3 linked regions of the Homo sapiens genome follow. The protein of the gene in region 1 purifies or fractionates together with the protein of each later gene. This does not show direct contact. Each region holds a gene or a part of one and is shown in the gene's direction. Other genes may lie near its edges.

Region 1 (8,048 bases):
TCTCCAGTTACTTCTCTGTGTCTCCTCTGATCCATCCTGTAATCCTCTCCATGCTGGGAGTAGACTTATTCTGGTATAGTTTATTGTTTCAGATGTTTTTCAGAATGGAACAAGCGGTTGTTTTGTTCCAAAGGGCTTCCCAAAAGGATGTGTCAAATTAAATAGAAGGAATGCTGAAGTATTGAATAACAAAATATAGGTCATTGAATAGTTATATTATTGTTAATAGTGAGATTTGCTGTGGATGAGATGAAATGTAAAGAATGTATATTTTCACAGAAAGTGGTTTTAATGAAGTAATTATAAAAGAATCTGTACGTGAGGAAAATTGATAGTAACAGAGGGATGATAAGATGAGAAATTTTCACAGTTCGGGATTAACGTGTGTGAGGTTTTTAAGTCATCTTAAATATTAGACGACCCTAAAATAATGTAACCCCACACTTAATCATTATCAAAGGAGTGCTTAGAAAAAAAAATCAGTTTATAAATGCAAGTAAAATCATGTTACAGGGAAAATTGTTTGAAGTTTTTTTTTCTTCTCCTAATTATTCCCCTCTTAGCTTCCCTAATTATTCCCCTCTTAGTATTCAAAAAGGACTTATAACTGAATTTGTGTTCCCTTCAACCTCCCAGTAACAACAATACCTCCTATAATTTATTAAGTGCCTACTTTGTATAGAGGCCATAAATGATACTATTACGACAACTCTGAGTTAGGTGGTGTAACCTCATTTTTGAGAGCAGGAAACAGTCTTCTAGAGTTTAAATAATGTGTTGAAGATATATCTTGGAAGTAGCAGAGTGCATATTTGAGTCAGTTTTTTTTTCTGACTTCAAAGTCTTAAGCCACCAATGATCTGTTTTTTCTTATCTTCCATCTTCATCCTTTTTTTGGTCTTTTCTCAAGCGGTTGGCAATTCGTGGTATTAATTGATAGTATGTGTCTGAGTGTTGGTTCTTTATGATGTAATTTCTTCAGAAGCGGTAGTTTTGAGGTATCTGTCTTTAATTGTGGGATCCTGTAGGTGCAGACAGTATGGTTCTGGTAATTTAAGGCACCTCAGAGCATCACCTTTTGCTGATCTGCAGGACAGAACTATGCTTGGATTCTTAATGTGTAGAAATCAAATGTGCTTTAATAATGTGAAATGATTTTCAAGGGCATCTGAACTGCTCAGGAAATATGGAATGGGAGATAAATGTAGAAATATATAACTTCTAGCGACATGGTGGAGGCTGCTGTTAGACATTTTTTCTTTTTTTTAAGCTCTCTCTGAAAGCTGAGATTTAGCAACTATAAATGTTTGGGCTTCCCTTCTATTATGAAACCTAAGGAAAGTATGTGTTTATTTGTTGTTAGACCATAGTGATTGGTTATACTCTCTCCTGCCACTTCGTGCTTATCATCTTAGTTATAAGAAATAACTCTTAACAATGAATTGAAGTGTTTATGTATTGGGGAGATAAGACACACTTTTTTGGTCGCTTTGTTTACCAATGATATATTACATAGTTGTAATTTATTGAAAATTTATGAGTAAGTTATGTCCACATGGCTAAATCATGTCCGCATTTTTCATAACTTTTCAATGGAATGAGAGATGGTCTCATGATACTCTTTTTCTTAAATACAAAGTTTAATGTTTTTTTTCTCTAGGTTAGTAATGTGAGGTTGAAGTTGTATTCAAATTTATTACATTTATTTAGATCACTTTGTGTTACCTGGAAGTACTTTCTTCAGTTGATAGCTACATTTGGAAAAAAAGGGAAGAGAGTTACCCTGTTATTCTGCCATTATATTCTTCATCAAAATGGAGGAAATTCATATGAAGTGCCAAGGACTATGTGATGCCTGCCACATAGTAGGCACTGTGTAAATCTTCTGTCCTTCATTTCAGAAGTTGCCGATAAGAATTTTAGAGGGTGGATTGGTGGGTAGACAAGCAAAGACTCTCGGGAACACCCTATTACAGGAAAATCTCTCATACCTGACCTCTGCTTAACCCACTCGTGAGATTAAATGATAGTCTTCATTCTCTCTGTAGAATTTGCTGACTGATGCTCATGCTACATTGAATGACAGTAGACTATTCTTTAGTTTTATCTTGAACTTTTATTCCCCCCAGTTACTGTAGACTTACCAAGAAACATTTGTGTTTGTACCCAACACACTGTTATGGCACTTGATGTTGTAATCACATAGTTTAATGAATTATTATTCAGTGAACTCTGAAGATAAAAAGGCGTTTGTATGAGAACCAATTGGCTACTTTGAAATCAAGTGAGTAGCCAAAATCAATTATGGTTGAAATAGATGAGGGTTAAATAATTTTAAATGATTAGGGAAAAAAAAACAAAAAACACCTAACGATCTAAAAAAATCTGCAATAATATTATTTTTCACGTTTGTAAAATGTCTTTCTGTGTTTAAGAAACAGAAACTGGAAATCACAGGTGTTGTTTTATGGGGGTAGTTTTTGCAAGAAAAAGGAAATAGAACTTTCTTCGATAGACCCACACTGGAAGAAAAGGCCATAGCTCTGTATTATAAGATTGTCTTGTGAATGGACATTTTTGTTTTAGTTGTAATAAAATGTATAGAGTTTGTAGATGTTGAGAAATGATTTCCTTTTTAGGCTAACTTCAGAACCATTTATTAATTGTAATATATTAAAGAAGTCTGCTTCTAAAACATCATCTTTCCTAGTTTACACTACTGCTTAGAGATTTATTTAATAACATCCTCTTTAAGAAAAAAAAAAAAAAAAAGGAAGATCCTGTTATTCCCAGAGGTTCATTCCTTAGAGTGAATTGTTTATCTAGTCAGGTGATCAATCTATGGTTCTCACATATTTCCCAGTATGGTCCCTAATCTGATTTCATAAGCTACCTTTCAACTTTTATGTACTGTCAGGGTTGAAGGGGTAAGCCTTCTTATAGTTCCAACATCTCCATCCAATTAGGAATGCTGGGGTAGAGGAGATTGTTCTTTGAAGGAGGAAATGTGACACCCTTGATATATACCAGGAGCACTTGAGCCTCCTATCTCACCTAGCTCAGTCCAAATGGAAAGGAGAACTTTCAGTTGAAGGAGCAGGAAGTCCAGGTTGGAGAAGGAGTGGTATATGTGGTATGCTATTTATTTTGGTGTAACCACATTGCTTGCTGAATTACAGTAGATGCTGAAATGGCACATTGAAGTATGAAGGTAGGGTGGGTGGCTCCAAGCTAGTACTTGAGAGCTCTGGTCTGCCCCTCTGTGATTTTCTTGGCTGTTTGTCTTCTGTGTGTTGGAGTCATCCTAAGGCCAGCAGCAAGATCACATCTAGACATGCACTGGCCAGAGGATGGAATGGATCTCTCTCTCTCTTTCTGTCTGTGTCTCTGGAAAAGCAAATACATCTTTTGCATAAGCCTACCAACATATTTTTCTCTTCGTATCTTATTGACCAGAATTAGGTCACATGAACGTCCTAACTAGTTATCATAAGGGAAGTAAGGTTATCATGGTTGGTTTCTACTAATCAGGAGATACCTTCTGCAATTGGTGTTGGGATCACATTTTTCTGAGTTAGATGGAAGAGGGAGGATATTTTAAAAAAATTGTGGGAAGGAAGAATTTGGGGGATATGGATGTTAGAGAGATGATAAATAGTGATCGCTGTGTCTACCTGTTTTGAAGCGATTCTCGTGCTTCAGCGTCCCAAGTAGCTGGGATTACAGGTGCATGCCACTGCACCCAGCTAATTTTTGTATTTTTAGTATACATGGGCTTTCTCCATGCTGGCCAGGCTGGTCTCGAACTCCTGGCCTCAAGTGATCTGCCTGCCTTGGCCTCCCAAAGTGCTGGGATTATAGGCTTGAGTCACCGTGGCTGGCAAGTTACTTTTTGAGACGGAGTTTTACTCTTGTTTCCCAGGCTGGAGTGCCATGGCATGATCTCGGTTCATTGCAACCCCTGCCTCTTGGGTTCAAGTGATTCTCCTGCCTCAGCATCCTGAGTAGCTGGGATTACAGGCAGTCGCCACCTTTCCTGGCTAATTGTTGTATGTTTAGTAGAGACGGGGTTTTGCCATGTTGGCCAGGCTGGTCTTGAACTCCTGACCTCAGGTGATCTGCCTGCCTCGGTCTCCCAAAGTGCTGGATTACAGGCATGAGCCACTGTGCCCGGCTGGGTCTGAATATTTTAGGAGCTAAAAACACTACTTTATTTTTTCATTGGCTAACTTTGAATCAATAAAATAGGTGGTGAAGTTGAAAGATTATAATTTTTTTCTATGAAACTCATGAAGCCATTTAATTTTACATTAAAATTTTTTCCTATAAACTTGTTTAAATTTTTTTTTCTGCATTGTTGCTTTCCTTCCTCACCATGAAGTTGCCCATACCTTTGATTTCATTGATTACTTTGCTTATCATATCTAGGGGAGAATAAGTGCATTGAGGAAATGGGAGTTTCTTGGTCAGAAGGATTTATTTTGAATCCTGGAATTCCAGTGAGATTGGAGGAAAGGATGGTTTTTACATATTTTGAGAGCAGCAGAGTTGGTAAGGGGTTGGGGAGGAAGGGAAGGACCATAGGATTTTAGACTTAAAATGAATCATAGGAAGATTGAAATGCTCAAGCCACACACCTGATTAGTAGAACTCTTATATCCTAATTACTAGTGGAGTGCTCTTTCTGAGTAAGAATTAGGAGGCCATAATAATCTTGTCTACTTTACAGTTTTGCTCAGGACTGTGGGCTACCAATGTAAATCAGTCAGCTAATCACCTTTAGTACAGATACCTGTGTTCTTAGGCTTTGGAAAAATTTAACCAGAAGTTTTCTTTTTTTTCCAGTAAAATAAGTAAACAGACAAAATTTTTCAGCTTGCCTCAAGCAGTCAACAACAATGACAACATCACACAGAAAGACAGGCAGACACACACACATGGAATAATCTTAAACCTAGCCTGCTTAAATGAAAATGCAAAAGCAGACTGTTTGGGACAATTCATTATTTTATTTTCAAGAAAATGATCTTAAGCATTTCTTTACCATCAATATATGTAAATGAAAGGAATATATATGTGCATATATACTATACATGTATACATAGATACATATATGTATGGGTTGTAAGTATATGGAGTAAATCCATCCATCTTCTGGAAGAATATTTATGTTAATGTCAGTTGTTTATAAATGGTGAGATTTAGGATGATTTTTATTTTTATACTTCATTTACTTCTCTATATTGTTTGGGTTTTCAGCTGTCACTGTGCATTATTTCTACCATCAGAAAAAACAGTAATTTTTTTTTTTTTTTTGAGGGGGGTAGAATCTTGGGGTGGGATGTGTTTTCTACCAGTTTAGATTTTAATATATAACTGCTTTCCTTGTATATTACCATGAATAAAGTGTGCCTCAAATGTATTGATACTTTGCAGATTTCTTTATGTTTAAAATTGGATGTATTAAAATTACTTATCTTAAAATTTTAAATTGAAATTGGCCATATAATATCTTTTGGTACAAATATACATTATAAAATTAGTGGACTTCTGAATATTTTGAAATTATTGTGTTATTTATTTTTTTAGTTTGTTTGGTTTGACTTCAGGTGGTATACTAGGCAGTGTATTAGACTGTGATTTATTAGAGTTAAAATTATATTCAGAATTTCCTTTAGTAAAAAGGGAAGTGAAAATGTTTTTTTTCTTTACACCCACTGTGTGTCATGTTTATTTTCTATTTCTGTGAAATACTTATTTTATATTCTAGCAATGAATACTTTCAAGTGGCAGGCAAATATATTAGGTAATCAGGACAGAAGAGAGAAAATTTATGGTATTCTATAAGTCTTAGGGTGTGCAAATTTATGACTACAGGACCTTTTAATAAAATTCTAATTTGGAGTACAAAAATAGTCTAGTATTGTTTTGGAGATGAAACTAGTAGGTGTCAGTTTTAGATGACCTTGAAAAAAAGTGTTTATAGATGCATATTTTTTACAAAACATTATTTTCTTTTCTACATTTATTTTAGGGAATCTGACAACAGTCTGACTCTCCCTACTCCAAAAATGTAAATCTTTAAATCTTAAAGATGTGGAATCTTGTGATGCCAGTTTTTATTTTAAAAAAAGGATCTTTACTGAGTACTTTTTCTGTCATACGAGTATCAGGATATATTGTTGCTGATGTGTCTTTATATAATTGAGATTCTGCAAATGTTTGTAGTTAATAAAGTATCAAAATATAATCAGCTCCTTAAGATAATTGTTTTGAGTATTTTCTGATATCTATTGAAAGTCGATAACTAGAATGCATATTGTGAGTTTGCTTATTATTGTATGCTTTGCTGTTTACCTTAATACCTACTAATGAAGGTGGTTTTTTTAAGACTGAAAAAGAAATCCTGAGCATTTGGGAATGAGAATATCCAATAAGCTAAAATTAATTTTACTATACACACTTGTTTAAAAATTTCCAGTTGAAAATTAGTAATTTTTCTTCTGTGACAGAGTAAATGAAAGAAGAAAAATGGACAATTTTAAAGATAGTTCATGCAGTCCTTGCTATGGGCTGGGAATGCTAACATTTAACTAAATAGATGAGAGGAGGGAAGGATTTGTGGAGAAAGTTTTTACTAGTGGTTCTTGGCCCGAGTTCATATTACAGTTTTCTTGGGAGCTTAAAAAAAAAAGACAGATGTTGGGATTCTACCCATGCTAATTTATATTCCATAAATAATCAGTAGGGCCTGGAAAGGGCTAGGGCATTGATATATTTTAGGATTTCTACAGACGATTCCAGTGTCCTGCAGGGTTGAAAATAACTAATTTCTCCTTCTTTTTACACTCTCAGCCCTTTAAAAAAATGGCTTTCTTTTATTTTCCAACTGTCTTTTTAAAATTTGAGGTGGAGGTATGAAGATGACACAGAAGAAAATGCAAAGAAAATATTAGCAAGAGAATCAAGTTAAAGTAGTGGCTTCTGCTCATAGCTTCATACAGTTCCTCAGATTCGTTCCAGGACCCCTCATGGCTATCAAAATCCAAGGATGGGCTGGGTGCTGTGGCTCACCCCAGCACTTAGGGAGGCAGAGGCAGGCGGATCACGAGGTCAGGAGATTGAGACCGTCTGGCTAACACGGTGAAATCCTGTCTCTACTAAAAATACAAAAAAATTAGCGGGGCGTGGTGGCACACGCCTGTCGTCCCAGCTACTTGGGAGACTGAGGCAGGAGAATCGCTTGAACCTGGGAGGTAAAGGTTGCAGTGAGCCGAGATGACACCATTGCACTCCAGCCTAGGCAATAGAGCGAGATTCTGTCTCAAAAAAAAAAAAGAAAAAAAAAATCTGAGGGTGTGGCCAGGTACCTGACATAAAATGGCACAGTATTTGCCTATAACCTTTGACACCTTCCCCTATTCTTTAGGTTATTCCTGGATTACTTGTAATACCTAATACAATGTAAGTGCTGTGTAAATAGTTGTTATGAAGTATTGTTTAGGGAATAATGATAAAAAAAAAAGTCTGTGCATGTTTAGTACAGATGCTTTTTTTTCCCTGAATATCTCAATCTGCAGTTGGTTGAATCCAAGGATGAGGAGCCCATAGATAATGAGGGTCAATTGTACTTAGCATCCTTAGTGAGGCCCCTATATTCATTGCTCATTAGCAGTCTTTGATTAAGTATAACGCCAAAGTTAGAGGATTTCTGAAGCTTGGAAAGTTTGTTATGGGGAAATTTATCAAATATAAATTAAGGCATCAATTCAGTTGTTTCTGGAAATCTTAGGAGACCTAAGTGATATCTCTAAAGTTATTATAAATTATAAGAGGGGAAGAAGTGTTACTAATAAAAAGTTATTCATTTTAGGTTATATTTATCATATTTACAATATCATTGAGCTGTATTTTTTATGGAACATCAGGATGGAAGGGACTTCAAAGATTATTTAGTATAACTGCACTTCTGCTTTCTTCTTTTTTATACCACTGTTGATGAGGAACGGTCTCTGTTTATTCCCGCTCAGTGAAAAAATTTTACCTTA
Region 2 (8,048 bases), on another chromosome or scaffold:
GCCCAAGCGATGTGTACCGCGTGTGGAAGCGGGGTGAGAGCCTGCGAGTAGACACCAGTCTCCTGGGCTTCGAGCACATGACCTGGCAGCGGGGCCGGAGGAGCTTCATCTTCAAGGGCCAGGGTGAGCTCTGGACAAACTCATTGCAGCTCCTCGGCCCTTGGGTTTCCTGCGGCTTGGGAGGACGGTGCTGCCTTTTCTCTCCACTTTCCAGATGTGGAAGCTGAGGTTGGGGATGGAGGGGCATCCAGGGGCCAAGACTGACCCACTTGGCAGCAGGTGGCTGAGGGTACATGATCGCCCTCTCTGCACTGCTGGCGCCCAGCACTGATTTGCGCCCCCTCTGTCCACCCCTACCGGCCGGCAGAGGCAGGAGCCCTGGTGATGGAAGTGGACCATGACCGGCAGGTGGTGCATGTGGAGACACTGGGGCTCACTCTGCAGGAGCCCGAAACACTGCTGGCCGCCATGCGGCCCAGCGAGGAGCATGTGGCCAGTCGCCTCACCTCTCCTATCGTCTCCACCCACCTGGACACTCGTAATGTGGCCTTTGAGAGGTCGGTCGGGTCCTGGCACACCGTGGGTGGGATGGGGACGGATAGCAAGAGCCACCATTAATGAGGGCAGGGCGATCCTTGAAGATCCTGGTTCAGGCCTCTGGGCTCACTCACAAGGGGCTGCTCAGGGGCAGGTGGGTTGCTGCAGCCCGTGTCTCACTCAGACTGCCGGGGTGGTTGGGCTCCTGTGGCCACCTTTGTGGGGAGGGGTCAGGTCAAGATGTCCCCAGTTTCTTGACTTCTGACCTCATATGTTTTCCCATTAAGACAAAGATTTAGGCTGTGGTTCACGGCAGCTCTTTGCACCAATGTTGGCTTGTCATTGGTGCGGCTGTGTTGGGGGCAGAATCCTTTGTGGGTAGCCTAGGAACCTGACCCTTCCAGCAAGAGTTTCTCTGACAACACATGCCCCCTCTTGCCTTAACAGTCAGTGGAAACACTTAAAAAAAAAAACAAAAAACCTTTATTGAGATATAATCTCATATACCATATAAGATCACCCATTTAAAGCATACAGTTCAATGACTTTTAGTATATTTATTCAGAGATTTGTACATCACCACAGTCAATTTTAGAACATTTTTATCACCTCAGGAAGAAACCCCCCACCCTTTAGCTAACTCTTCGCCAAACTTCTTATCCCCTCTCCCAGTCCTAAGCAACCACTAATCTACTTTCTGTGTCTGTAGAATTCCCTGCTCTGAGTTCTCATATGAATGGAATTTTATAATATGTTGCCTTTTGTGTCTGGCTTCTTTCACTTAGTATAATATATTCAAGGTTCATCCAAGTTGTAGCACGTAACTATTTCTTTCCTTTTTGTGGCCATTGTATGAATATACCATATCTTGTTTATTCATTAACCCATCGATAGACATTTGGGTTATTTGCATTATTTGGCTTATGAATAATGCCACTCTAAGTATTCATGTGCAAGTTTTTGTGTAGACGTATGTTTTAATTTCTCTTTCATATGTTTTCATTTCTCTTGGGTATATACCTAAGAGTGGAATTGCTAGGTTACTGATAACTCATTGTTTAATTGACTGTTTACCAAACGAGCTGTACTGGTTTACATTCCCACCAGCAGCATGTGAGGGTTCCAGTTTCTCCACATCCTCATCAACACGTCATTATTCACTCATTTGTTTTTGGAATCTAGCCAGCCTAGTGGGTGAGAAGTGATAGCTCACTGTGATTTTGATTTGCCTTTCTTTGATGACTAATGATGTTGAGCATCTTTTCATGTGCTTATTGGTCAATTGTATATCTTCTTTGCAGAAATGTCTATTCAGATCCTTTACTCATTTTTTATTTAACTTAATTAACTTATTTATTTTGAGATGGGGTCTGGCCTTTCACCCAGGATGGAGTGCAGTGACATGATCATGGCTCATTGCACCCTCCACCTCCCAGGCTCAAGTGATCTAAGTAGCTGGGACTACAGGTGCATGCTGCCATGCCCAGCTAATTTTTAAATTATTTGTAATTATTTTATTATATCATTTAATTGTTTTGTTTAGTTATTTGTAGAGATAGAGTCTACAGACTGGTCTTAAACTCTTAGGCTGAAGCGACCTGCCTACCTGGGCCTCCCACAGTGCTGGGATTACAGGCATGAGCCACCACACCTATCCCTTCACCCATTTAAAAAATTGGGTCATCTTTTGATTATTGAGTCATAGGAGTTTTATAATTTTAGCTGTTACACTTAGGTCTTTGAGCCATTTTAAGTTAATTTTTGTGTATAGTGGAAGGTTCTTTTGCATGTGACTATCCAGTTGTCCTAGCCCCCTTTGTTGAAAAGACTATGTTTTTCCCACTGAATGGTCTTGTCACCCTTGTCGAAAATCAGTTGACCATAGATAAATTGGTTACTTTCTGACTCCCACATTAGTTCCATTGGTCTACATGTCTGTCTTTATGCCAATATTATACTGTCTTAATCACTGTTGCTTTGCAATAAGTTTTGAAATTGGAAAGTGTGAGTCTTCCTACTTTGTTTTTCTTTTTCAGGGTTATTTCAGTATTTTGGGACCCTCGCATTTTATATGAATTCTATTTTCTTTTTTCTCACAACCCAGTGTAGGCAGAATATATGAATTCTAGATTCAGCTTGTCAATTTCTACAGTCAGGTGGGATTCTGATAGGAATTGCACTGAATCTATAAAGCAGTTTGGGGAATAGTACCATGTTAACAATGTTAAGTCTTCTAATCCGTGAACATGGGATGTTTTTCCATTTATTTGGATCTTCTTTAATTTATTTCAACATTATTTTATAGTTTTCAGAGTGTAAGCTTTGCACTTTTGTTACATTTATTCCTAAGTGTTTTATTCTGTTTTTTGTTTTGTTTTGTTTTTTTGTTTTTTTTTTTGAGATGGAGTCTCACTCTATTGCCCAGGCTGGAGTGCAGTGGCACAATCTAGGCTCACTGCAACCTCCACCTCCTGGGTTCAAGCAGTTCTCCTGCCTCAGCCTCCCAAGTAGCTGGGATTACAGGTGCCCACCACCACTCCTTGCTAATTTTTGCATTTTTAGAGAGACAGGATTTCACCATGTCGGACCAGGCTGGTCTCCAACTCCTGACCTTGCTGGGATTACAGGTGTGAGCCACCGTGCCTGGCCACTAAGGGTTTTATTCTTTTTGATACAATTATGAATCAAATGTTTTTCTTAATTTTATTTTTTGATTGTGTATTGCAAATGTATAAAATTACAATTGATTTCTGTATGTTGACCATGTATCCTGCAACATTGCTAAACTCATTCATTCAAGTAGATTTTTAGTGGATTCCTTTCCTCAGTATTTTTTTTAACATATAAGATTATGTTATCTGTAAATAGATTTAGTTGTATTTCTTCCTTTCCAATTTAGGTGCCTTTTGTTTCTTTTTCTTGCTTAATTGCTCTGACTAGAACTTCCAGTAGAATATTGATTAAAGGTTGTTAGAGGCTGGATGCGGTGGCTCACGCCTGTAATCCCAGCACTTTGGGAGGCCGAGGTGGGTGGATCACGAGGTCAGGAGATCGAGACCATCCTGGCTAACATGGTGAAACCCCATCTGTACTAAAAATACAAACAATTAGCCAGGCTTGGTGGCGGGCGCCTGTAATCCCAGCTACTCAGGAGGCTGAGGCAGGAGAATGGTGTGAACCCGGGAGGCAGAGCTTGCAGTGAGCCAAAATCACGCCACTTCACTCCAGCCTGGGCGACAGACCAAGACTCCATCTCAAAAAAAAAGGGGGGTGGTTAGAGCAGGCTGGGCATAGTGGTTCACGCCTGTAATCCCAGAACTTTGGGAGGCTGAGGCAGCCAGATCACTTGAGGTCAGGAGTTTGAGACTAAGCTGGCCAACATGGTGAAACATCATCTCTACTAAAAATACAAAAACAAAAAAAAAATTAGCCAGGCATGGTGGTGGGCACCTGTAGTCCCAGCTGCTTGGGAGACTGAGGCACAAGAATTGCTTGAACACAGGAGGCAGAGGTTGCAGTGAGTCCAGATTGTGCCACTGCACTCCAGCCTGGGTGACAGAGCAAGACTCCATCTAAAACAGTAAATAAATAAATAAAAAAGAAAAGAAAAGTGGTTAGAGCAGACATCCTTGTATTCTTGTCTTGTTCTTCATCTTAGGGGAAAAACATTCAGTCTTACCATTAAGTATGATATTAGTTGTGAGTTTTTGGTAGATACCCTTCATCAGGTTAAGGTAATTCCTTTCCATTCCTCATTGTTAGAGTGTTTTTATCATGAAAGGATGTTGGATTTTGTGAAATGCTTTTTCTGTGTTTATTGATATGATCATGTGATTTTTTAAAAAATTCTATTGATACATCAATTGACCTATGGATATTGAACCAACCTTGCATTCCTGTGATAAGTTCCACTTGGTTGTGGTGTATAATTCTTTTCATATGTTGCTAGATTTGGTTGGTTCGTATTTTGTTGAGGATTTTGTGTCCATATTCATAAGTGATATTGGTCTGTAGTTTTCTTGTGATATATGTCTGGTTTTGGTATCTGGGTGATGCCTCATAACTGAAGTGGAAAATGTCACCTCTTTGTCTATTTTTTTTAATAGTTTGCAAATAATTGGTATTAATTTGTCTTCAAAAGATTGGTAGGATTCAGTGGTGAAGCCATTTGGGCCTGAGTGTGTGTGTGTGTGTGTGTGTGTGTGTATGTGTGTATAGTTTTTTGTTGTTATATTTACCAATCAGTCTCTTGACTTGTTATCCATCTATTCAGATTATCTATTTATTCTCAAATTAGTTTTGGTAGTTTGTGTCTCACTAGGAATTTGTCCATTTCATCTAAATTATAAAATTTGTTGGTGTACAGCTATCATTGTATCCTTTTATAATGCTTTTTATTTCTGTTGCTCCCCTCTTTCATTTCTGATTCTGGTGAGTAATTTGAAGTTTTTGTTTTGTTTTGTTTTGTTTTGTTTTGTTTTGTTTTTGAGACAGAGTCTTACTCTGTCACCCAGGCTGAAGTGCAGTGGCATGATAAGAGCTCACTGCAGCCTTGAACTCCTGGGCTTAGGTGATTCTTCAACCTCCCAAGTAGCTGGGACTGCAGGCATGCACCACCAAGCCCAGCTAATTTTCTTTTTTTGTAGAGATGTGGTCTCACTATGTCATCCAGGCTGCTTTTGAACTCCTGGCCTCAAACAATCCTCCTGCCTTGGCCTCCCAAAGCACTGACATTACAGGTGTGAACCACCGCCCCCAGCCAAGTCTTCTCTCTCTTTTTTTGCCCACCGTGGTCAACCTAGCTAAAGGTTTGTCAATTTTGTTGATGTTTTCGAAGAGCCAGTTTTTGGTTTCATTAATTTTCTCTATTATTTTTCTATTCTCTATTTCATTAACCTTTACTGTAATATTTATTATTTCTTTCTGTTCTTTCTGGTTTAGTTTGCTCTTTTTCCATTGTCTTAACATGGAAGGTTAGGTTAAGGTTATTGATTTGAGATCTTCTTTCTTAATATAGGCATTCACACATATTACATTTATACTTCTAGGCATGTCTTTTCTTTTTTTGACATGGGGTCTCACTCCATCGCCCAGGCTGGAGTGCAGTGGTGTGATAGCTCACTGCAACCTCCGCCTCCCAGGCTCAAGTGATCCTCCCACCTCAGCCTCCTGAGTAGCTGGGAACACAGGCGCCAGCTAATTTTTTCTGTTTTTAGTAGAGATGGGGTTTCACCATGTTGCACAGGCTGGTCTCGAACTCCTGTGCTCAAGCAATCTGCCTGTCTCAGCCTCCCAAAGTGCTGGGATTACAGGCGTGAGCCACCGGGCCTGGCCTGGCCTTTACCTGTGTCTCATAAGTTTTTTGGTTTTTTTTTTTTTTTCTGAGAGGGAGTCTTGCTCTGTCGCCCAGGCTGGAGTGCAGTGGCACGATCTCGGCTTACTGCAAGCTCCGCCTCCCGGGTTCACGCCATTCTCCTGGCTCAGCCTCCCGAGTAGCTGGGACTATAGGCGCCTGCCACCACGCCCGGCTAATTTTTTGTATTTTTAGTGGAGATGGGGTTTCACTGTGTTAGCCAGGATGGTCTCCATCTCCTGACCTTGTGATCTGCCTGCCTCGGCCTCCCAAAGTGCTGGGATTACAGGCGTGAGCCACCGTGCCCGGCCATAAGTTTTGATATGTTGTGTCTTTATTCCTGTTTATCTCAGAGTATTTTCTGATTTCTCTTTTGATTTATTATTTGAGACGTTGGCTATTTAGGAGTGTGTTGTTTACTTTCTACATATTTGTGAATTTCCAAAGTTTTTTTTTTCTGCTATTGACTTCTAATTTCATTCCATTGTGGTTGGAAAACATACATTGTATGACTTCTATCCTTTCAATTTTATTGAGGTTTTCTTTTTTTTTTTTTTTTTTTTTTTTTGAGACGGAGTCTCGCTCTGTCGCCCAGGCTGGAGTGCAGTGGTACTGTCTGCTCACTGCGAGCTCTGCCTCCGATGTTCACGCCATTCTCCTGCCTCAGCCTCCCAAGTAGGTGGGACTACAGGCGTCCACCACCGTGCCCGGCTAATTTTTTGTATTTTTTAGTAGAGACGGGGTTTCATCATGTTTGCCAGGATGGTCTCGATCTCCTGACCTCATGATCCACCCCCCTTGGCTTCCCAAACTGCTGGGATTACAGGCATGAGCCACCGCGCCCGGACTTATTGAGGTTTTCTTAATGGCCTAGTGTATGGCCTTGAAGAGTGTTCCGTGTGCGCGTGAGAAGCGTGTGTGTGGTTGTTATTGGGTAGAGTGTTCTAGCCTGCTTATGAAGTCCAGCTGTAGTGTTGTTCTTATCTTCTGGTTCTTTGTTGATCTTCTAGTTGTTCTATCCCTTATTGAAAGTGGGGTACTGGAGTCTCCAACTGACATACTTTTCTTTTAGCTTTTTATTTTGGAAAATTTCAAACATATATGAAAGAAGAGATAATGTACTTACTCATCACCCAGCTTCAACATTTATCAACATCTTGCCAATCTTACTGAATCTATCCTTCCTTACCTTTTTTAAAAATGTTTCCTAGAGTGTGTCAAAGCTCATCCCAGATGTCCTAATGTTTCTAGTAAATGCTTCTGCACAATTCTAAAAGACAAGGATGTTTTTAAACCCAGCCCCGACACTATCATACCTCACAAGATTCATGCTAATTCCTCAGTGTCTTCTAGTCCCAAGTCCATGCTCAAGTGTCCCCCCCTGTCCAGGCACCCTCTTCAGGGGTCCTCCATGTTTCATAGCGAGAAGGGGCCCTGAGAGTTGGGCACCCCGGGCAGGCTGGCTGGAGGGGGCTTTGGAAAGGAAGGCTTTGGCCAGCGTGTGAGGGTGCAGGTCTCACCAGCTCCTGTTTGGTCTGTTTCAGGAACAAATGTGGTATCTGGGGCTGGCGGTCTGAGAAGATGGAAACTGTTAGCGGCTACGAGGCCAAGGCAGGAGAGGCTAGGGGTGGGGGGCTGGGGGTAGGAGATGAGGTCCAGGAACTCAGCTCCTCTCCACATCCATCCCAGAGTAGCCCCTGGGCTCTGGAAACCCTGAGCATTTGTGGGAACTCAGCGGGCCTGAGTGCCCAGCCCCTGCGGAGTACACAGGGCTCACCCACATCATGGGCCCCTACCCAGGGTACCGAGATCAAAAGAGGAGTGTGTTCCTCTTGACCCTGGGGCTGCATCTCCTCGTTGGTGACTTCCTGGGGTTCAGACCCTGCCACCTCCTCCATTTTGGGGAGCAAGATCTCATCTGTCTCTGGGACAGGAGGACCTGGGTTCTGCACTGGTGAGGCTGAGTGTGGGGAGCAGGCTCTGAGCCCCCAGCTCCCCGTGTCCCCTGCTCCCCAGGTGTACAGTGCCACCAACGTGGAGCTGGTGACACGCACACGCACGGAGCACCTCTCTGATCAGGACAAGTCGAGGAGCAAAGGTAAACCCAGGTGCGCCTGCCTGCTGCCCGGTCACACCGTGTGGTGGGGTCACCCTGGCC
Region 3 (8,048 bases), on another chromosome or scaffold:
CCAAATCCCATTAGAAGAAAAGCAAACTATTTGGAAACAAAATGCTAATAACCGCATATGTTCTTTGTAACGTGGCTAACCTGCTGCTGTTCCCTGAGCTTCCTGCATGACATCCCAACCACTCAGTGGTCAGAGCAGAAGTCAGGCTGTTGCCGTAGCCAGGGCCAAGAGGAGCTGGGATGTGATGTCCTAGACAAAGGGTAGGGCTGGTCAGGGATCCCCTGTGAGAGGGAGCGTTTCCCAGGGCAAGCTGCTTTGAAAAAGAATCAGAGCCTCCTGGCTGCTTTTGGTTCCTAAATACATTTTTTTTCAGGAGTATGTTGAGTTGAATAACTGAGATTTTGGGCATATTACCAATGCTGCATCTGCCACTGGAATGCTGGGCTACTTTAAAAGGAGTTCCACAGAGATGGAATTAACAGCTGGGCTAAAAAAATCTGTTTTTCACATCCTTTGCCCTGCTGCACCAAACCTGCCCAAACATGTGACTCAGCTATTTTGCAGACCTAATGGCATCTCCAAGCAGCTCACCACAGTGATGAGTTCCTGGCCCACCTGCTCTTTTGTAAGGAGCAGGATGGTCTGTGCCTCATTGTTCTAAGAATTCCTCGAGTGAGATGTGGCTACTTGTGGAGATCCCACCATTGACATGCATGTCCCCAGTTAAGATGACCCAGATAAATGCTCTGACCTGGTTACCACCTTGTGGCAAGCCCTTGGATGCTGGTCATCTTCAGTCACTTCTTTGGGACTGCTGTCCAATAAATGTCACCACCTTTGTCCTCAATGCTGGCAGTTTTGTAAAGAAGCCAAGATTGGAGGCTTTCTATGCCTGGGGTGAGGCAAATTGATTAATAACTGTGGGAGGAGGGTGGAGGGTGCATAAGCCATCTGTCATTGCTAACCGCCTCCTGTGGACAATAGGACCATGATTTCCAAGTGTCCTTCACTAACTTAAGCTGGGGGGGAAAAAAACTATAAAGGCTACAGATATAAATCTGAATGGCATATTGTACATGTAGAAATTTGTGGTGTTCACTTTTTATCAGAACTAAATCCGGATTCTGGGGCTGGAGGACAGATAAAGCAGAAGTTGTTAATGGTTACGAAGCAAAGGTAAAAGGAAACTCTTAAAATAAGATTTAATATAGCTATTTAGCTTCTATGCAAATGAGGAATCTGTTCCCATTTTTTTCATGCATCTGTGCCATGGAGATGCTCTGGGGAATGAGAACTGTCTAATGTGTCTCTCACTTGGATGTTTGATTTTGTCTTATTTGACTTTCAGAAAATGGGATAGCATGCCCTGAGGAGGTCTGTAGCTATGCTAAAGAGAAACAATATGGTAGAGAAATGAGTACAGGTACCAGTTGTTCTGGTAGGAATGACAAGCTAGTCATTCCCTTAATTATTTAAAAAAAAAAAAGGAAGAGGAAGGATTAGACTTCACATGTGTTCAAATGTTGTGTAGTAGCTTTTGAGTCTCTTTTTTGTTAAATCAGCTTAATTGTAATCAGCAGGCGCACAGCCCATTTGCATGACATCAGTGCATTTAAAACATAGTTGTAATAGTGGAGACGATTGTTGATCCAGTCATCTGGCATTTTGTCAGCTGGAAAGCTGTTTCCTGGCCTTTCAGTCCCTCAGTACAACAGGGATTGATGGCTTTTGGTGTTGGAGCCCAGTGCTGCAGGGTCCTCTGGTGGCCTCTGAGTGAGCAAAGAAAGGCTTACGTCATGCTCAGCAAGATACATTTAGAAGCACTTGTCATAGTGCTGAGTGTGTTTTCTGCAGCTTTGAATGTTGGGGCTCCTCACGTGGCATATAGAGAGAATTCTTTGTTAACTGTTATGTTTGATTTTCTAGACCACCATATTCCCCAGTTATCCTTGATAACAGAGCATTTGCTCTGGCAGTTACAATAATTTTTGTCAGTGCACAGAATGCCTTTTAAATAGTGACTTGCTGGTTTTCTCTACAGCTCATAAGTCTATAGAGAACCTTGTGTTCATACCTTTCTCTTCTGCCCAGCAGATGGCTGTCTGAGTCATACTAGTATTACAAGACTACCAGCGGAGGCTGGGTGCAGTGGCTCACGCCTGTAATCCCAGCACTTTGGGAGGCCCAAGTAGGCAGATCACTTGAGGCCAGGATTTTGAGACCAGCCTGGCCAACATGGTGAAACCCCGTCTCTACTAAAAATACGAAAATTAACCAGTCATAGTAGCACATGCCTGTAATCCCAGCTACTCTGGAGGCTGAGGCACGAGAATCGCTTGAACCCAGGAGGCGGAGGCTGCAGTGAGCAGAGATCACGCCACTGCACTCCAGCCTGGGCAACAGAGGGAGACTCTGTCTCAAAAAAAAAAAAAAAAAAAATTACCAACAGAAGTACAGGATCCTGGTTTGGGTACCTTAGTTTAATAGAAACCCAGGTGGAAACCTAGATTGCAGGGCATTTGTTTGAGACTATTTAGCCACAGCAGGGCAAGCAGGAAGATGCAGCCTGTCACTGCTAACTCCTTAGTATTAAAACTGTCAAACATGGGAGGTAACTGCTGATGCATTTTTCAGTTGATAGTTTATATACTTTCTCTGAAGGATCCTAATGATAGTTAACCATTTCTCATTTTTATTTTGCTGGATTGTTTTCTGTTTTTTGCTTCAGCATTCTTGCTTTTGCTGTGCTTACTTTTGGAGTTTTGATTCCCTGTGTCACTGTTTTCTTTCGCATACACCTCTCAGGTTTACACAGTAAACAATGTGAATGTGATCACCAAAATACGCACAGAACATCTGACCGAGGAGGAAAAAAAGAGATATAAAGGTAATCACCACCACCCTCCCACCTCCTGTTTTGTTGTTATTTTTTAAGCCTAGAGGGAACTCTTTGTTGGCTCTGTTAAGTTTAGGGTTAATGTGATTGGGTTGTGTTAAGCCTAACCCTAACTTCTTCTCTCTCTCTCTCTTTTTTTTTTTTTTTGAGGCAAAGTCTCGCCCTGTCACCCAGGCTGGAGTGCAGTGGCACGACCTTGGCTCACTGCAACCTCTGCCTCCTGGGTTCAAGTGATTCTCCTGCCTCAGCCTCCTGAGTAGCTGGGATTACAAGCACCCACCACCACGCCCGGCTAATTTTTTGTATTTTCAGTAGAGACGGGGTTTCACCATGTTGGCCAGGCTGGTCTCGAACTCCTGACATCAGGTGATCCTCACCCACCTCGGCCTCCGAAAGTGCTGAGATTACAGGCGTGAGCCACCGTGCCTGGCCCCTAACTTCTTTTTTATAAAAATTTCTGGCCAGGCACGGTGGCTCATGCTTGTAATCCCAACACTTTGGGAGGCCAATGTGGGCGAGTCACCTGAGGTCGGGAATTCAAGACCAGCCTGACCAACATGGAGAAACCCCATCTGTGCTAAAAAAAAATACAAAATTAGCTGGGTGTGGTGGCCCATGGCTGTAATCCCAGCTACTCAGGAGGCTGAGGCAGGAGAATCACTTGAACCTGGCAGGCGGAGGTTTTGGTGAGCTGAGATCGTGCCATTGCACTCCAGCCTGGACAACAAGAGTGAAACTCCATCTCAAAAAAAAAAAAAAAATTTCCTGGCTGAGCACGGTGGCTCACACCTGTAATCCCAACACTTTGGGAGGCCAAGGTGGGCAGATCACTTGAGGCCAGGAGTTTGAGACCAGCCTGGCCAATATGGTGAAACCCTATCTTTACTAAAAATACAAAAATTAACCAGGCGTGGTGGCGCACTCCTGTAGTCTCAGCTACTGGGGAGGCTGAGGCAGGAGAATCGCTTGAACCCCAGAGGTGGAGGTTGCTGTGAGCCAAGATTGTCCCACTGCACTCCAGCCTGGGTGACAGAGCTAGACTCTGTCTCAAAAAAAAGAAAAAGGAAAGAAAATTTCCTTAGTCTGACTCATTCTTGGAGGTGTTTCCCCATAGTTGGCCTCAGCTGTAATTAAAGCTATTCGTGAGGGCTTGTTTATGTGTTATCAAGAACAATTGTTGAATTCAGCCAAAAAAGGAGATAAGGACATTTGAGAATATTTATCATTGGAATGAGTGATTTAGTCCAAACTATTGTGATGAAAGATTTAGACAGAACTTGGGGTCCAAGCAAAAACATTGCATGTGGTTGCCACATCCCAGCCCCATCCCAGCCCCACCAGTTCTATGGCCTTGTGAAATTACTTCTGCTCTGTGCCTTAGTTCCTCAGCAGTGAAATGCAGGTGATACCCAACCTTCCTTAGAGTTATTGAGAGGATTAGATGAGTTACGACGTGGAAGCCTTTAGAATGGCGCCTGCAGTATGTGGTAAGCATGCAGTAATTGTTCACCAGCACCACCACCACCATTGCCATTACTCCACTTTGACAGATGAGGGAACTGAGGCCCAGAACACATGGGTAGCGAGTGGCCAAGGTGGGGTTGGAATCCAGGTCTGGCTCACTCCAAAATCCAGACTCTTCCCATTATTCTGCTTTAATTCTTACAACTGTTTATCTAGTTTAGAGATCCTCATGAAAAGCACCCTATAAAGGATAAATTAGTTTATGGTTATTGTGAATGATTTGATCAGCCAGTCTGTAATTGCATTTCCTAATGAGGTAGCTTGGACCAGAAACTTTAATGAAGATCTTTTTTTTATAGCCACAAGTGAGATATAATATTAGACTTTAAACTCCCTACCCCTCTGTAGCAGACAGGAACCCGCTGGAATCTTTGCTGGGAACTGTGGAACACCAATTTGGTGCACAAGGGGTAAGTTGAAGCAATGAGCTTTCATTGCAGTTAGATGAAAGGAAACAACTTGTCTGTGTCTGGGATGGCATTTACTGGATCCTGAACAGCCCACTCTATGTAAAGGCCAAAGATACCCCCAAGCTGGAATTTGAGATACTCTTTTGGAAGAGAATTAGATGAGTGACTCTTTGAAAATAAATAAGGATTTTAGAGGAGGGGTAGTGATTATAGAAATCAGGTGCTTTCCCTCTTATCCATTATAAACGAGGGGCCTCTTTATAGAAATGGAACTTAAAAAGGATTCAGGACTTTATATTGCAACAGAGCACCTTAACAAATATTTTCTTACTTGATGCTCACAGTAACTATATGAACTTGGTACAGTGGATGTCCCTGCGGGTCAGAAAAATGAAATTACCTTTCCACTATCAAAGCTAGACAGGGAAACAGCTAGAACTTCAACTCCAAGTCTTCCAAGTCTCATGCACTTTCAGATATTTCTTTCTTTTTTTCTTTGTTATAATCAGGAGATAAAAATGTAAAGGAGAGTAGAGAAATATTTTAAAATGAAGAAATCCATTACACTTCCTGTGTAGTTTGGTGATATCCTCATAGATTTTCTTGTTCCATGCAAAAAAGTTAGTGAATAGAACTTCCCGGTCTTTAGCTGGTTAACACGTCCACCTCAGACACTGAGTGCCACAGGCCTTCACTTGTGAACATCATTTGGCATTTCTGACTCTCCTGAGTTCTGGCTCAGCAGGACCTCACCACGGAATGTGCTACTGCAAACAACCCCACAGCCATCACGCCTGATGAGTACTTCAATGAAGAGTTTGATCTGAAAGACAGGGACATTGGAAGGCCGAAAGAGCTGACGATTAGAACACAGAAGTAAGAGAGGTTCAGCTGCCATTTTCAACCTATGTATGTTTCAGAAATTGTGCTGTTTTATGGTGTTATGTTGGATCATTCCACTGCCCTCCCCACCACCCTTATTTTTTTTTCAGACGGAGTCTCGCTCTGTCGCCTAGGCTGGAGTGCAGTGGCACGAACTCGGCTCACTGCAACCTCTGCCTCCCAGGTTCAAGCGGTTCTCCTGCCTCAGCCTCCTGAGTAGCTGGGACTACAGGCGCGTGCCACCACGCCCAGCTAATTTTTGTATTTTTAGTAGAGATAGGGTTTCACCATATTGGTCAGGCTGGTCTCGAACTCCTGACCTTGTGATCCGCCCGCCTGGGCCTCCCAAACTGCTGGGATTACAGGCATGAGCCACTGCGCCCAGCCTCCTCTGCCCCTTTTTATAAAAAATAATTTTAAAATTACTTTGCCATGAAAGCTAACAGTAGATTGTCCATGTTATTAGCTCCTTTCCAAATAGAATCTAGATTGGATGTAAGAATTCCTTTTTTTTTTTATTGCTAACCAGCTTCAGCTGATCAAATTCAAATGAAACTGTTCCACCCGCTATCATTTCTTCATGCTTGCTGTCAATTAAGGCTTTGATCGTGGCAGGTTGTCATGCAGGTCGCTTGCCTTTATTGCCAGATTTTAGGGTGATGTGAATTCCTTGTGGCCCTAGACATTTGACCTTTAATAGGTCTGAATTAAGAGATGACTGGGCAGAGTGTGGAGTAAAGCTGCTGTTGTCTAGCCTACTGCATAGCAATAATCTCCTTTTCCCATCTGGTGGAGATGACCTCAGTCTTTTCTTGGTTGAATTCTGCAGGTTTAAAGCAATGTTGTGGATGTGTGAAGAGTTTCCCCTCTCTCTGGTGGAGCAGGTCATTCCCATCATTGACCTAATGGCTCGAACGAGTGCTCATTTTGCAAGACTGAGAGATTTCATCAAATTGGAATTCCCACCTGGATTTCCTGTCAAAATAGGTACTGCTAAATAAACTTCAGCAACACTTGGAGGTTCTGCCCATGTTTGTGGGTGGCAGCATGTGGGTGGCAGGATGCTTCAGGGAATTGGAGTGCTTTAGGTCAAAGTAGCTTATAGACATAACAGAGGAGGTCAGAGTTCTCCTGTGGTTTGATTTAAAGAAGTGTTATGATTAGTGGTTCATTTTGTGTATCAAAGTCAAGAGATCTCCAACCATCATTTCTATTTGCAAATGGTGCTGACAGATATAAAAAGGCATAAAAACATGACACAGTCATTGTTTTAATGTCAAACCTTAATTCAGTGAGACTTCAAATTAGATAATTATTTGAGGAAGACAGTTGACACCAAGATCCTTTGATATGTAAATATGATCTACGTCCCAAGCTAGTATGCATAATGCTATATATGTATATATCATACATACTACTCATGAAGAGTATTAATTTTGGATAGTTGTATGTTCATGATACTTGAACCCTGGCTTGATCACTTACTCACTGTGATCTAGGAGAAAATACATAACTCATTTTCTCTTTTTTTTTTTTGAGATGGAGTCTCGCTCTGTTGCCCAGGCTGGAATGAAGTGGCATGATCTTGGCTCACTGCAACCTCTGCCTCCTGGGTTCAAGCGATTTTCCTGCCTCAGCCTCCTAAGTAGCTGGGATTATAGGCATGCATCACCACGCCCAGCTAATTTTTGTATTTTTAGTAGAGATGGGGTTTTATCATGTTGGTTAGGCTGGTCTCGAACTCCTGACCTCAGGTGATCAGCTCGCCTTGGCCTCCCAAAGTGCTGGGATTACAGGTGTAAGCCACCGCGCCTGACCGAAAATACACAACTCTCAATCTCAGTTTTCCCGTCTGTGTATTGGGAAGGGTTGTTATGAGGCTTAAATAAAATTATACTTATCAAAGTACTTGGCATAGTAAGCACTTAGTAAATGATAACTATTATTGTTATTCTCAGTAAAGTTTACTTATAAAAGTTTTTATTTTGTTTGTTAGAAATTCCCTTGTTTCATGTCTTAAATGCACGGATTACATTTGGAAATGTTAATGGCTGTAGCACTGCCGAAGAATCTGTATCTCAAAATGTGGAAGGGACCCAGGCTGATTCAGGTAAAAAAATAAATAAATACAAAGTTTAGTTTTGTTATTTAAAAAAAAATTTATGGCCGGACGTGGTGGCTTATGCCTGTAATCCCAGCACTTTGGGAGGCCGAGGTGGGTGGATCACCTGAGGTCGGGAGTTTGAGACCAGCCTGACCAACATGGAGAAACCCTGTCTCTACTAATAATACAAAAATTAGCCGGGTGTGGTGGCGCATGCCTGTAATCCCAGCTACTCGAGAGGCTGAGGCAGGAGAATCGCTTGAACTGGGGGAGAGGCGGGGGGATGGAGGTT

Evidence for each region.
Region 2: the proteins of CSNK1G3 (region 1) and ANKRD13D purify together in Homo sapiens (affinity purification with mass spectrometry; 2 studies listed by BioGRID and IntAct, with this or other methods). This does not show direct contact.
Region 3: the proteins of CSNK1G3 (region 1) and ANKRD13A purify together in Homo sapiens (affinity purification with mass spectrometry; 2 studies listed by BioGRID and IntAct, with this or other methods). This does not show direct contact.

Annotation. Positions count from the first base shown.
Region 1 is NC_000005.10:123,515,177-123,523,224, forward strand, and holds part of CSNK1G3 (casein kinase I isoform gamma-3), read left to right. Parts: intron 1-8,048. UniProt on the Homo sapiens protein: Serine/threonine-protein kinase. Casein kinases are operationally defined by their preferential utilization of acidic proteins such as caseins as substrates. It can phosphorylate a large number of proteins. Participates in Wnt signaling.
Region 2 is NC_000011.10:67,291,624-67,299,671, forward strand, and holds part of ANKRD13D (ankyrin repeat domain-containing protein 13D), read left to right. Parts: coding exon 1-123; intron 124-367; coding exon 368-557; intron 558-7,434; coding exon 7,435-7,501; intron 7,502-7,906; coding exon 7,907-7,988; exon of another isoform or gene 7,989-7,998; intron 7,999-8,048. UniProt on the Homo sapiens protein: Ubiquitin-binding protein that specifically recognizes and binds 'Lys-63'-linked ubiquitin. Does not bind 'Lys-48'-linked ubiquitin.
Region 3 is NC_000012.12:110,022,997-110,031,044, forward strand, and holds part of ANKRD13A (ankyrin repeat domain-containing protein 13A), read left to right. Parts: intron 1-1,049; coding exon 1,050-1,116; intron 1,117-2,745; coding exon 2,746-2,827; intron 2,828-4,708; coding exon 4,709-4,770; intron 4,771-5,512; coding exon of another isoform or gene 5,513-5,515; coding exon 5,516-5,646; intron 5,647-6,481; coding exon 6,482-6,639; intron 6,640-7,648; coding exon 7,649-7,762; intron 7,763-8,048. UniProt on the Homo sapiens protein: Ubiquitin-binding protein that specifically recognizes and binds 'Lys-63'-linked ubiquitin. Does not bind 'Lys-48'-linked ubiquitin.